Linked DNA regions of Homo sapiens: regions 1, 2 and 3 are each linked to region 4. The links come from fine-mapping of genetic effects on gene expression. A gene starts in region 4. Each other region holds a variant in brackets. All regions are shown on one strand. Distances are between the middles of the regions. Region 1 has its middle 27 kb from the start of ARRDC2. Region 2 has its middle 37 kb from the start of IL12RB1. Region 3 has its middle 22 kb from the start of ARRDC2. Region 4 holds the start of ARRDC2 (arrestin domain containing 2).

Region 1 (2,683 bases), 27 kb before region 4:
ATTTTATTCTTACGTTACTTTTTTTTTTCTCACATTCTCAAAATAAAATATTAAATACATAAATTTTGAGTCAAGTGTATTAAGGTGTAACTTATATCCAATAAAGTACAGTTGAATGAGTTTTGTTTTTTTTGAGACGGGGTCTCACTCTGTCACCCAGGCTGGAGTGCAGTCGTGTGATCGCGGCTCACTGCAACCCCTGCCTCCCGGGTTCAAGCGATTCTCCTGCCTGAGCCTCCTGAGACACTGGGATTACAGGCACATGCCACCATGTACGGCTGATTTTGGTATTTTCAGTAGAGACGGGGTTTCACCATGTTGCCCAGGCTGGTCTCGAACTCCTGACCTCAAGTGATCCTCCCACCTCGGCCTCTCAAAGTGCTGGGATTACAGGCATAAGCCATGGTGCCCAGCCAGCACATTTTTCCTTATGGGGTTAACAGTGAGTTTCAGACAGTTACATATACAGTGGGGGTGGGGGGATAAATAAAAGTGAGGGGCCTTCCTGCAACAAGCCCCCGGGGCTGAGCTCAGAGGGGCCCAGCAGCCTGAGATGCAAGGTTGGCTCTTGGTCACCTGCAGTTGGCTAAAGTCCCATTTCATGGCCAGTGCTACTAAGGCTAGAGACAAAGGACCCAGTGGGCTCAAATCTGGCCCTGGATGCTGGACCTCCATCTTCTCACCTCAAAAGCAACGATAAGGCCAGGCGCATTGGCTCGCACTTGTAATCTCAACACTTTGGGAAGCCGAGGCAGGAGGATCGCTTGAGCCCAGGAGTTTGAGACCAGCCTGGGCAACATGGCAAGATCCCATCTCTTTAAAAAAAAAGTTTTAGCCTTGCACGGTGACATGCACCTATAGTCCCAGCTACTCGAGAGGCTGAGGCAGGAGGATCACTTGCACCTGGGAAGTCCAGGTTGCAGTGAGCTGCGATCGCACCACTGCACTCCAGCCTGGGCGACAGAGCAAGATCCGGTCTAAAAAAAAATAAAAGTAAGGATAAAAGAGAAAGGTGAAGGCCAGACGCAGTGGCTCACGCCTGTCACCCCAGCACTTTGGGAGGCTGAGGCGGGCTGATCACTCGAGGCCAGGAGTTCAAGACCAGCCTGCTCAACATGGTGAAACCCTGTCTCTACTAAAAATACAAAAATTAGCCAGGTATGGTGGCACACGCCTATAATCCCAGCCACTCGGGAAGCTGAGGCAGGAGAATCATTTGAACCCAGGAAGCAGAGGTTGCAATCAGCCGAGATCGCACCACTGCACTCCAGCCTGGGCGACAGAACAAGATTCTGTCTGAAAAAAAAAAAAAAGACAGAGACAAGGTCTTGTTCTGTCACTCAGGCTGGAATGCAGTGGTGCGATCATGGCTCACTGCAGCCTTGACCTTCTGTGCTCAAGGGATTCTCCTGCCTCAGCCTCCTGAGTTTGGGACTATAGGTGTGCACCACCATACCTGGCTAAGTTTTAAATTTCTAAGATTTTTTTTGTGATGTGGGAGGCTTCATCACAGGGGGATCAGGTTTAGCAAATACACATCCAGGCACCCCGTTAACTTCAAATTTCAGAGAAACAACTGTCTTAGCTTTCTGCTTTGTGGTAACAGAATACCACAGGCTGGGTAATCTATAAACAATTGAAGTTTATTTGGCTTGTGGTTCTGGAGGCTGGGAAGTCCAAGATTGGGCCATATCC[G/A]GCGAGGGTCTCCTTGCTGTGTTATCACGTGGTGCAGGCATCATCTGGTAAGAGAAACACGCCAGAGAGCAAGGGAAGCCCCAAACAGCCCTGCCTTGCCCTGCCTTGCCCTGCCTTGCCCTGCCTTGCCTGCCCTGCCCTTCCCTGCCCTTCCCTGCCCTTCCCTGCCTTGCCTTGCCTTTTTTTTCAGACAGAGTCTTGCTCTGTCACCCAGGAGTGCAGTGGTATGATCTTGGCTCACTGCAACCTCCGCCTCCTGGGTTCAAGCTACTCTCTTGCCTCAGCCTCCCGAGTAGCTGGGATTACAGGCACATGCCACCATGCTCAGCTAATTTTTTGTATTTTTACTAGAGACAGGGTTTCACCGTGTTAACCAGGATGGTCTCGATCTCCTGACCTCGCGATCCACCCGCCTTGGCCTTCCAAAGTGCTGGGATTACAGGCGTGAGCCATGGCACCTGGCCAGCCTTTTCTTTTAAATTTTTATTTATTTTTACATTAAAAAAATTTAAAGACAGGTTATTACTCTTGTTGCCCAGGCTGGAGTGCAGTGGTGCAATCTTGGCTCACTGCAGCCTTGACTTCCTCCTGGGCTCAAGCAATCCTCCCGCCTCAGCCTCTTGAGTAGCTGGGACCATAGGCCCACACAACCACACCCAGCTAATTTTGTTCTTTTTTGTAGAGATGGGGTCTCACTATACATAGATATACTATAAATATATACTATATATTCATGTATGTATCTATATATATGATATATATTTTCATATATTATATATATATTAGAGACATGTATTTGTCTCTAAAACAGAGACAGGGTCTTGCTCTGTCTCTCAGGCTGGGGTGCAGTGGTGCAATCATAACTCACTGCAGCCTTGAACTCCTAGGCTCAAGCGATCCTCCCGCATCAGCCTCCTGAGTAGCTGGGACTACAGGTGCATACCACCACACTGAGCTAATTTTTAAATTTTTTGTAGAGACGGAGTCT
Region 2 (2,683 bases), 41 kb before region 4:
TTTCTCTGACTTGCTTTTATTTTTTTTTTTAATTTTTTTTTTTTTAATTTTTTGAGACAGAGTCTCACTCTATTGCCCAGGCTGGAGTGCAATGGCGTGATCTTGGCTCACTGCAACCTCCACCTCCCAGGTTCAAGAGATTCTCCTGCCTCAACCTCCCAAGTAGCTGAGATCACAGGCGTGCGCCACCCTACTATGCTAATTTTTGTATTTTTAGTAGAGACGGGGTTTCACCATGTTGGTCAGGCTGATCTTGAACTCTCTGGCCTCAGGTAATCCGCCCTCCTCGGCCTCCCAAAGTGCTTGGATTACAGGAGTGAGCCATCGCACCTGGCTTGTCTTGCCCCTCTTTGTCTCTTTCTCCCTGTGCCCCTCTCTCTCTATCTTTGTGTTTTGTCTCTCTGTCTCTCTCCTTGTCTCTTTCTTTGCCATCTTTTTTTTTCTTTTTCTTTTTGTAGAGATAAGGGTCTCATTATGTTGCCCAGGCTGGTCTCTAATTCCTGGCCTCCAGCAATCCTCCCCCCTCAGCCTCCCAAAATATTTGTGTCATCTTTCTCTTTATCTCATTTCTCATCTCTCTCCCTGTCTCTCTCTCTGTCTCTTTGTCTCATCTCTCTGTCTCACTTCTGTCTCTCTGTCTCTGTCTCCCTGTGTCTCCCTTTCTCTCTTTCCCTGTTTCTCTGTGTCTGTCTCTCTGTGTGTTTCTGTCTCATCTCTCTCTGTCTCTGTTTCACCTGTCTCTGTGTCTCCCTGTGTATCTCTCTGTGTCTCTGTCTCTCACTGCCTCTGTCTCTCCTTGTTTCTCTGTTTATTTGTCTCTTTTTTTACTTTTGGAGACAGAGTCTCGCTCTGTGGCCCAGGCTGGAGGGCAGGGGCACAATCTCTGCTCACTGCAACCTCTGTTTCCCAGTTCAAGTGATTCTCCTCCCTCAGCTTCCTGAGTAGCTGGGATTACAGGCCCCCCACCATGATGCCTGGCTAATTTTTGTATTTTTGTAGACACGGGGTTTCACCATGTTGGTCAGGCTGGTCTCGAACTCCTGACCTCAAGTGATCCACCCGCCTCGGCCTCCCAAAGTGCTGGGATTACAGGCGTGAGCCACTGTGCCCGGCCCCACTTCCATTTTTAGGTGGGGAAATAGGGGCTTATTCCTGAAGAGTCTCGTGCAGGTGTCCCAGCCCCAGTGGCATCATGGTCACCCTGGTCCAGCTGCTGGGCTCTGTGGCTCTCCGGCTGTCCTGGGCCTCCCATTCTAGGGGCCTGTCCCATAAATGGTCAGCCCAGAAGGTTCCACCCTCACATACTGGATGGTGACACCCCCACCTCCCAGAGCTAGTTTTCCAGCAGGCAGTCTGGCGGGAAGCCCAGGCCAC[T/G]TCCCCGTGGTGTTGGCTGCTGCCCGGTGCAAGCCGGGAATGGGGACCGGAGGTGACGTTTAGGGCTAGGCTTTGGGCTCAGGTTTTTTTTCCTCTTCCTTTTTTTTTTTTTGGTATATAAACTATTTGTTTTTTTGCGACAGTCTTGCTCTTTCGCCCAGGCTGGAGTGCAGTGGCATGATCTCAGCTCACTGCAACGTCTGCCTTCCGGGTTCAAGAGATTCTCCTGCCTCAGCCTCCAGAGTAGCTGGGTCTACAGGCGTGTGCCACCACACCTGGCTAATTATTTGTATTTTTAGTAGAGACAGGGTTTCACCGTGTTAGCAGGATGGTCTCAATCTCCTGACCTCATGATCCGCCCACCTCGGCCTCCCAAAGTGCTGGGATTACAGGCGTGAGCCACCGCGCCCGGCCATAAACTATTTATTAACAGATAAGGCCTACAGACTTATTTCTTCTTGGATACACCCACGGTACAGGTACGGCCATGGCGGCCAATGGTCTCGGTGTGCTGGCCTCAGACATGAAGGCCCCAGAAGTGGTGCATCCCTCTATGGGCCGGAATCTTCTTCGGTTGCTCCAGGTCTTCACGGAGCTTGTTGTCCAGACCACTGGCTAGGACCTGGCTATATTTTCCATCCTTTACATCCTTCTGTCTGTTCAAGAGCCAGTCTGGGATCTTGTACTGCTGTGGATTCTGCACAATGGTGATCACTCATTCCATCTCATCCTCCGTGAGTCTCCCGCCCTCTTGGTGAGGTCAATGTCTGTTTTCCTCAACACCACATAAGCGTATCTTCCATCCACACCTTTAATGGCAGTGATAGCAAAGGCTATTTTCCACCACCCATCGATGTTGGTGTTGAGTACTCCCAAAATATGCTGGAACTTTTCAAGGATCACTAGAGACACGGTGGCAGGCTCTGGGGTTCCATACCAGGCACCAGGATCATATTTGGGGTATGGAAGCCCCACATTGCCCTCATCCTCTCTGGCTTTCGTCATGGGGGTGGTGGGCATGAGGAGGAAGGGACCCAGGCCTTTGGCATGAGGTTCCCTTCTTCAGCAAGCCCCCCACTTCCTGGATCGCTGGGGACCCCCAGCCCTGGGTACCTCCCTCCAGCCTAGCCTTGACCCTGTGGGAACAAGAATATCTCTATCCAGCCTGGACCTTCCCAAGCTGGGGCCTCGAGCATTACCCCAAATAAGGCAGGCACCTGGATGTGGCCAGGAATGAATGAACATGAATGAACAAATGAATCGTATATAATCTTACAAACTCAGAAACGTAAGGCCATACAAATCTAAA
Region 3 (2,683 bases), 22 kb before region 4:
GGTAGCTTTGTGATTAGATCCACAGAGTCTTCATAAATCAACTCCCAGTACTTGGTTCGGCTGATACCCCGTGCATATGCTTGGGCAAAGTTACTTTCACTGTTGAGGGCTGTAACAGCTGCACTGAGCTGAGACATGGGGTGTAGATTGGTGGGAAAGTTGTCCAGCATGGTGACCACATGGGAAGGCAGAGCTGCCCTCTTTGCCCACTCTTTTGAGAGCCAAGATACCTGTTCCTCTGTTGGGATACATCCAGTTACCAGCAGCCAAAATAAGCCCTCAGGCAGGGGTTCTTCCCCACCCTTAGCCTTGGGTAGCAGTTTCTGGCATTCAGGGATACTAAAGCCTCAGAAACGGATGCCCTCATCAGGATCAAGAACTGATGTTTCATAGACCAATCCCTTCATGCCTCTCATGCCACCATACATCATGTCCACAGTGATTTGGCCCACCACCTTCTTGCCATGTTGCTGCCTGAAGGTCTTAATTCTGGCCTGCTCCTTAGGTATGAGGTCAGCCAATATGTCTTTCAAATTCATGGAGGAAGCACTGGCATGCTGGGCTGCAAGAACAAGACAAGATGCATTCTTGGTTCCCAAGAGCCGGGCGGCCGCAGTAAGTAAAGCCATGGCGGGCGATCTCCGGGATCTGGTGGGGAGGTAAGAAGGGGAGAGAGCTGCGGCAGGAACAGGAGCCGCCGCCACTGCACCAGAGGCCGCGCCGACAGGTTGACAAGGTTGAAAGGACTGCTTTGAGGATTAAGTTTCAAACATATGAACTTTGGGGGACCATTCAAACCATAGCATCAATGAATAATTTTTTTTTAGTATAAGTATATCCCAAATGTTGCATGGGATATACTTACAGTAAAACCAAATTCAATATTGATCTGAACTTCACATTTAGCTGAGTAGCCTATATTTTATCTGGCAACCTGGCTTCACCATCATGCCCATTTTACAGATGAGGTGGCAGAGGCCCAGAAAGGTTAAGTAATGTGCCTGAGGCAGCACAGCCAGGGACAAGCAGAAGGAGAATCTAACCAGGATCATGGGTCCCACAGCCTTCAGGGGACTCATTCCCCACCCTGGCTAGAGGTGGCCGCAGGAGAGAAGCCCAGCTTGCCAGGACCTCAGTACCCTGTAAACACCTGGAGAGGTGCCAATCCTACCCGCCATCTGGACTTGGGTATCTGGAAGTGGGGCTGACTCATCCCCTGTAAACAGCCAGTCTCCTGTCACTGTAAACAGCTGGCATCTAGAGACGCTGTCACAGTGCCCAACTCACAGTGTGAC[A/TTA]TCCATGACCCGATACTTTGCCATCAGCCTGTCACTCGATACTTAGTAAACAGTATCCTGAGAGTGGACAGTAGTTGGTGGTTACCGCGGTGCCGTGGGCCCCAAGGCAGGGTTGGACTTAAACCCAGGTTCTGACACCTGATTAGCCATCAGAGCTTGCTGTGTTCTGATACTTTGTGAAAAAAGACTAATCCTGATACTTGCTATCTGTCAATGATGAAACCCTGTTAGCCATAAACCTGTCCTCATATTTTATCAGCTGGTAACTTTAAACAAAGTTCTGATACTCTGTAAACACAAATCATGACACTTATGACCCATCAGGGGTTGGTAAACTTCAGCTTTAACCATGACCCCAAAACAGTATTCAATTTTTTTTCCGTTTTTTTTTTTTTTTTTTTTTTTGAGACAGAGTCTCACTCTGTCGCCCAGGCTGGAATGCAGCAGCGTAATCTCGGCTCACTGCAACCTCTGCCTCCCAGGTTCAAGCTAATCTCCCACCTCAGCCTCCCGAGTAGCTGGGACCACACCCAGATAATTACTGTATTTTTAGTAGAGACAGGGTTTCACCATGTTGGCCAGGCTGGTCTAGAACTCCTGGTCTCAAGTGATCCGCCTGCCCCAGCCTCCCAAAGTGCTGCTGGGATTATAGGTGTGAGCCACCGCTCCTGGCTCCTTTTTTTTTTTTTTTTTTTGAGATGGGTTTCACTCTTATCCCCCAGGCTGGAATGCAGTGCCTTCATCTCGGTTCACTGCAACCTCCACCTCCTGGGTTCAAGCGATTCTCCTGCCTCACCCTCCCGAGTAGCTGGGATTATAGGCGCCTGCCACCACGCCCAGCTAGTTTGGGTTTTTTTTTTTTTTTACTTTCTTTCTTGTATTTTCAGTGGAGACAGGGTTTCACCATGTTGGCCAGGATGGTCTCCATGACCGGCCCTGGCTCCCTCCTTTTTTTTAGAGACAAGATCTCTCTCAGTCACCCAAGCTAGAATGCAGTGGCGGGATCATAGCTCACTGCAGCTTCGAACTCCCAGGCTTAAGTGATCCTCCCACCTCAGCCTACTGAATAGCTGAGACTACAGGCATCCCAGCTAATTTTTAAAACTTTTTGTAAGGATGGAGGAGGGGGTCTCCCTATGTTGCCCAGGCTGGTCTTGAACTCCTGGCCTCAAACGGTCCTCTCACTTCAGCTTCCCCAAGCACTGGGATTACAGGCAAGAACCACCATACCTGGCCTACATTTTAAAATGACTGAAAAACTACCAGAGGAAGACTATTTGATGACATGTGAAAATTACATGAAATTCACACTTGAGTGTCCATGAACAAAGTTTTCCTGGGATACAGCCATGCTCACTTATTTGTGTATATGAATGCTTTCAAACAGC
Region 4 (2,683 bases):
CAGCCCCCGTCCCAACCCAGTCCGGTCCGCCTGCTACCTGGGGTGTAGCCCTTGCGGTCGATCTTGGCCGAAAGGGAGACTAGGCCACGGTTACAGTACCAGGATCGGGCAACCTTTTCCCGAGCCCCCGCTTGAGGTGCCTGTCGGTGTAGAGGAAAGTGACATGGATGAGTCACTTTGTGCAAACCACAGTCGCTGTGGAGCTTCCAAACCACCCCCAGCTGAGGGAGGACTTTGGGCAGGGCTTGGTTTCTTTTTAACAATCCAGGAACTATCCGTTAAATAGAGCCAGGAACACAACCCATCTTATAAAGCCAGAAATGAAATGTATAAGCCAAGTGTTTGGTGTGTAATTCACACTTGGTAAGCCCTAGCTCTGGTCTATTTCACAGAAGAGGCATCTGAGGCTCAGAGAGGGCTTCAAGACACTTGCCCAGAGTCACACGGCAAATGGGTGCAGATCCCAGTGGATTCCACACGCATTCCCACACCTGCCTCCCTCCCTGCCAGGGCCCACCTATGACCTCCATCTTATTGGTTGGTGTCGCCCAGCAGCCAGGCAGGCCCCTTCCTACAATACTCCCAACCTACCTCCCCAAGGGTGGCCACTCACCAGCAGGGCTGGCGTGTTGATGTCCACAGGCTCGATGACAGTGAACACCTTCCTTGCCCGGCGTGCTGGGACCCAGGGCCGGTGCAGGGTGGCCTTGATACAGTAGCGGACACTACCGTGTTTGCCCTCGAAGGATGTCACCAGGGTCCTAGGGTGGAGGGACGGGACTTCAGGGGACAAGATACAGAGACAAGCAGGCAGGGAGAAGGAGACACAGACACTCCGGGGGCCTCCCAGGGGGAGAGTCTTGGGGCTCAGAGGTGCCCAGATATCCAGTATTGGAGGTACCAATCTGGAAGGGGCTGCAGGCTTAGGGCAACCCTGCACCCCAGAGGACTTACGGGGGCAGCTGGAAGCTGAACAGGAACTCATGGCGCCCAGGAGGCAGCGTCGTGGTCTCCCCGGTATCTGCAGGTAGGAGAAAAAGGAGGCGACTGAGCGGTTGCGCTGGGGTCCCAGGGCTGACGGAGGTACCGCCGTCCAGGTGGTGGGAGGCACACAACTGGTGTTGGAGCAGGGGTCCTCCATCCGTACCTGGCGCCAGGAGCGTGGCGCGGTGGCTCACGACCTCCACGCGTTCACTGTAGCTCTGCGTGTAAGCCGTGCTCGAGCCCGCGCTGCGCGACTCGGTCCAGTGCACGTGGGCGCGGCCCCGCGCGCGCAGCCTCAGGGCACCCACACGCGCGGCGCTTGACAGCTCCAGCAGCACCCGGCCCGCCACGGCCTGGCCGCCGCTAAACACGGGCTCGACGCCCGCGGTCGCGCCGTCCAACTGCACCGAGAACGCTTTCACCTTGTCGAATAGCATCGCGTCCGGGGTGCGAACCCACGACAGGCGGAACCTGGCCTCGAACTCGCGAACCGGCAGCTCAAGATGCCGACGCTGCAGCCTCAGAACGCAAAATCGCCGTCAACGCGCAGGCGCGCTCACCAACCGGAGCAGAAAATCCCCGCGCCGTGCGTCGGCGCCGCTTTTATACGGCAGGGCGGGGGGGGGTGGGGTCACCGTCTCTTCCCCGCCCCGGGAAGGGACTCCACCAATAGCGCGACAAGGGGCGTGGCTCTGCCCAGGCGTGGAGCAAAATAACAAACGCCCCTGCTCACCGCCGGCTGCCCCCTTCCCTCGCGGACCCCGGGGAGAAACTGAAGCCCTTAGGCTGCCAGAGCTGGTCTCTCGCGGACCCCGGGGGTAAAGAGGAAAAAAAGAGGTGCAGAGGCAGGGCCCAGGCCTGAGGTCACCTAGCAGAGCCTTCAGCCTCTCGGCTTAATCACTCACCAGCCGCCCCTCGTTGACGTGACTCGAGGCATGTCCAGCCCGATTTGGGGCGGGGGACTCTCGCCCCAGTTGAGGGCCAGAGAGCCTATGACTGTTCCAGGCCTGTTTCCCCCGCTATGCAAAGGGAGAAGTGGAGGAGGTGGGTGGGACCGCCCTCCACACTGGTGCCTGCTGCACCCCTTTCCTGATTCAAGTCCCGCTTAGCTGGTGGCTCTGGGCAAATGACAACCTCTTGGAGCCTCAGTTTCCACCTCTGTAGAGCCGGGAGAAAGTAAAAATCAGTCCTGACCTCAGAAGGTTGTGCATGGATCATCGTGCAGCCCCAGCTGGACTCCTCCAAGAGCCTCGCTCCCGGGTCATCAACCTGCTCTTGACATACCGTCACTCGGTCGCGCCTCGGCGCATTCGCCCAGGAGCGGTACCTACGAAATGATGTTCCCTTCCCAATTTTCAGCCTCTGGCAAACCCTACCTTCCCCGCAGCCCTTGTGCCTGCTCCAGTCATCCTCAGCCCCCGTCCCGCCACAGAGCTGAATGCAGGGGACGCTCGGGCACCCCCAGGTCCACAGCTGCGGTGTGGCCACGGGACGGCGTGACCTCTCTCTGGGCTTCAGTTTCCCCAAAGAAAAGTCGCATGGAGTTTCTCCAGCGGGAGTTGCCTCTGCGTCGTCTGCGGGACGCTGGCGCCCTCTCGTGGCAGCGTAATGCGCTGCCGCTGAACCCATCCCCTGCCGTGACTGTCCGCCTCTGAGCCTGGCTCAGGAGACTTCCACCACCTCAGTGAGGTGTGTGGGT

The links.
Region 1: its variant is fine-mapped to the expression of ARRDC2 in whole blood (TOPMed, PIP above 0.99).
Region 2: its variant is fine-mapped to the expression of ARRDC2 in whole blood (TOPMed, PIP above 0.99). The same link has a PIP of 0.9 or more in thyroid.
Region 3: its variant is fine-mapped to the expression of ARRDC2 in esophagus mucosa (GTEx, PIP 0.92).

What each region holds. Positions count from the first base shown.
Region 1 is chr19:18,034,271-18,036,953 of GRCh38, reverse strand. No RefSeq gene overlaps it. Among named protein-coding and RNA genes, the nearest start is that of ARRDC2, 27 kb to the right of the region's middle. The variant G/A (reference allele first, on the strand shown) is at 1,696.
Region 2 is chr19:18,048,240-18,050,922 of GRCh38, reverse strand. It overlaps the pseudogene RPS18P13. Among named protein-coding and RNA genes, the nearest start is that of IL12RB1, 37 kb to the left of the region's middle. RefSeq lists a silencer at 1,394-1,555. The variant T/G (reference allele first, on the strand shown) is at 1,375.
Region 3 is chr19:18,028,575-18,031,257 of GRCh38, reverse strand. It overlaps the pseudogene CSP3. Among named protein-coding and RNA genes, the nearest start is that of ARRDC2, 22 kb to the right of the region's middle. The variant A/TTA (reference allele first, on the strand shown) is at 1,296.
Region 4 is chr19:18,007,049-18,009,731 of GRCh38, reverse strand. It overlaps ARRDC2 (arrestin domain containing 2), which reads right to left and starts at 1,562. Exons shown (of 8, transcript NM_015683.2): 1 at 1,148-1,562; 2 at 955-1,021; 3 at 614-761; 4 at 38-140. The coding sequence starts at 1,421. RefSeq lists an enhancer at 1,289-1,508.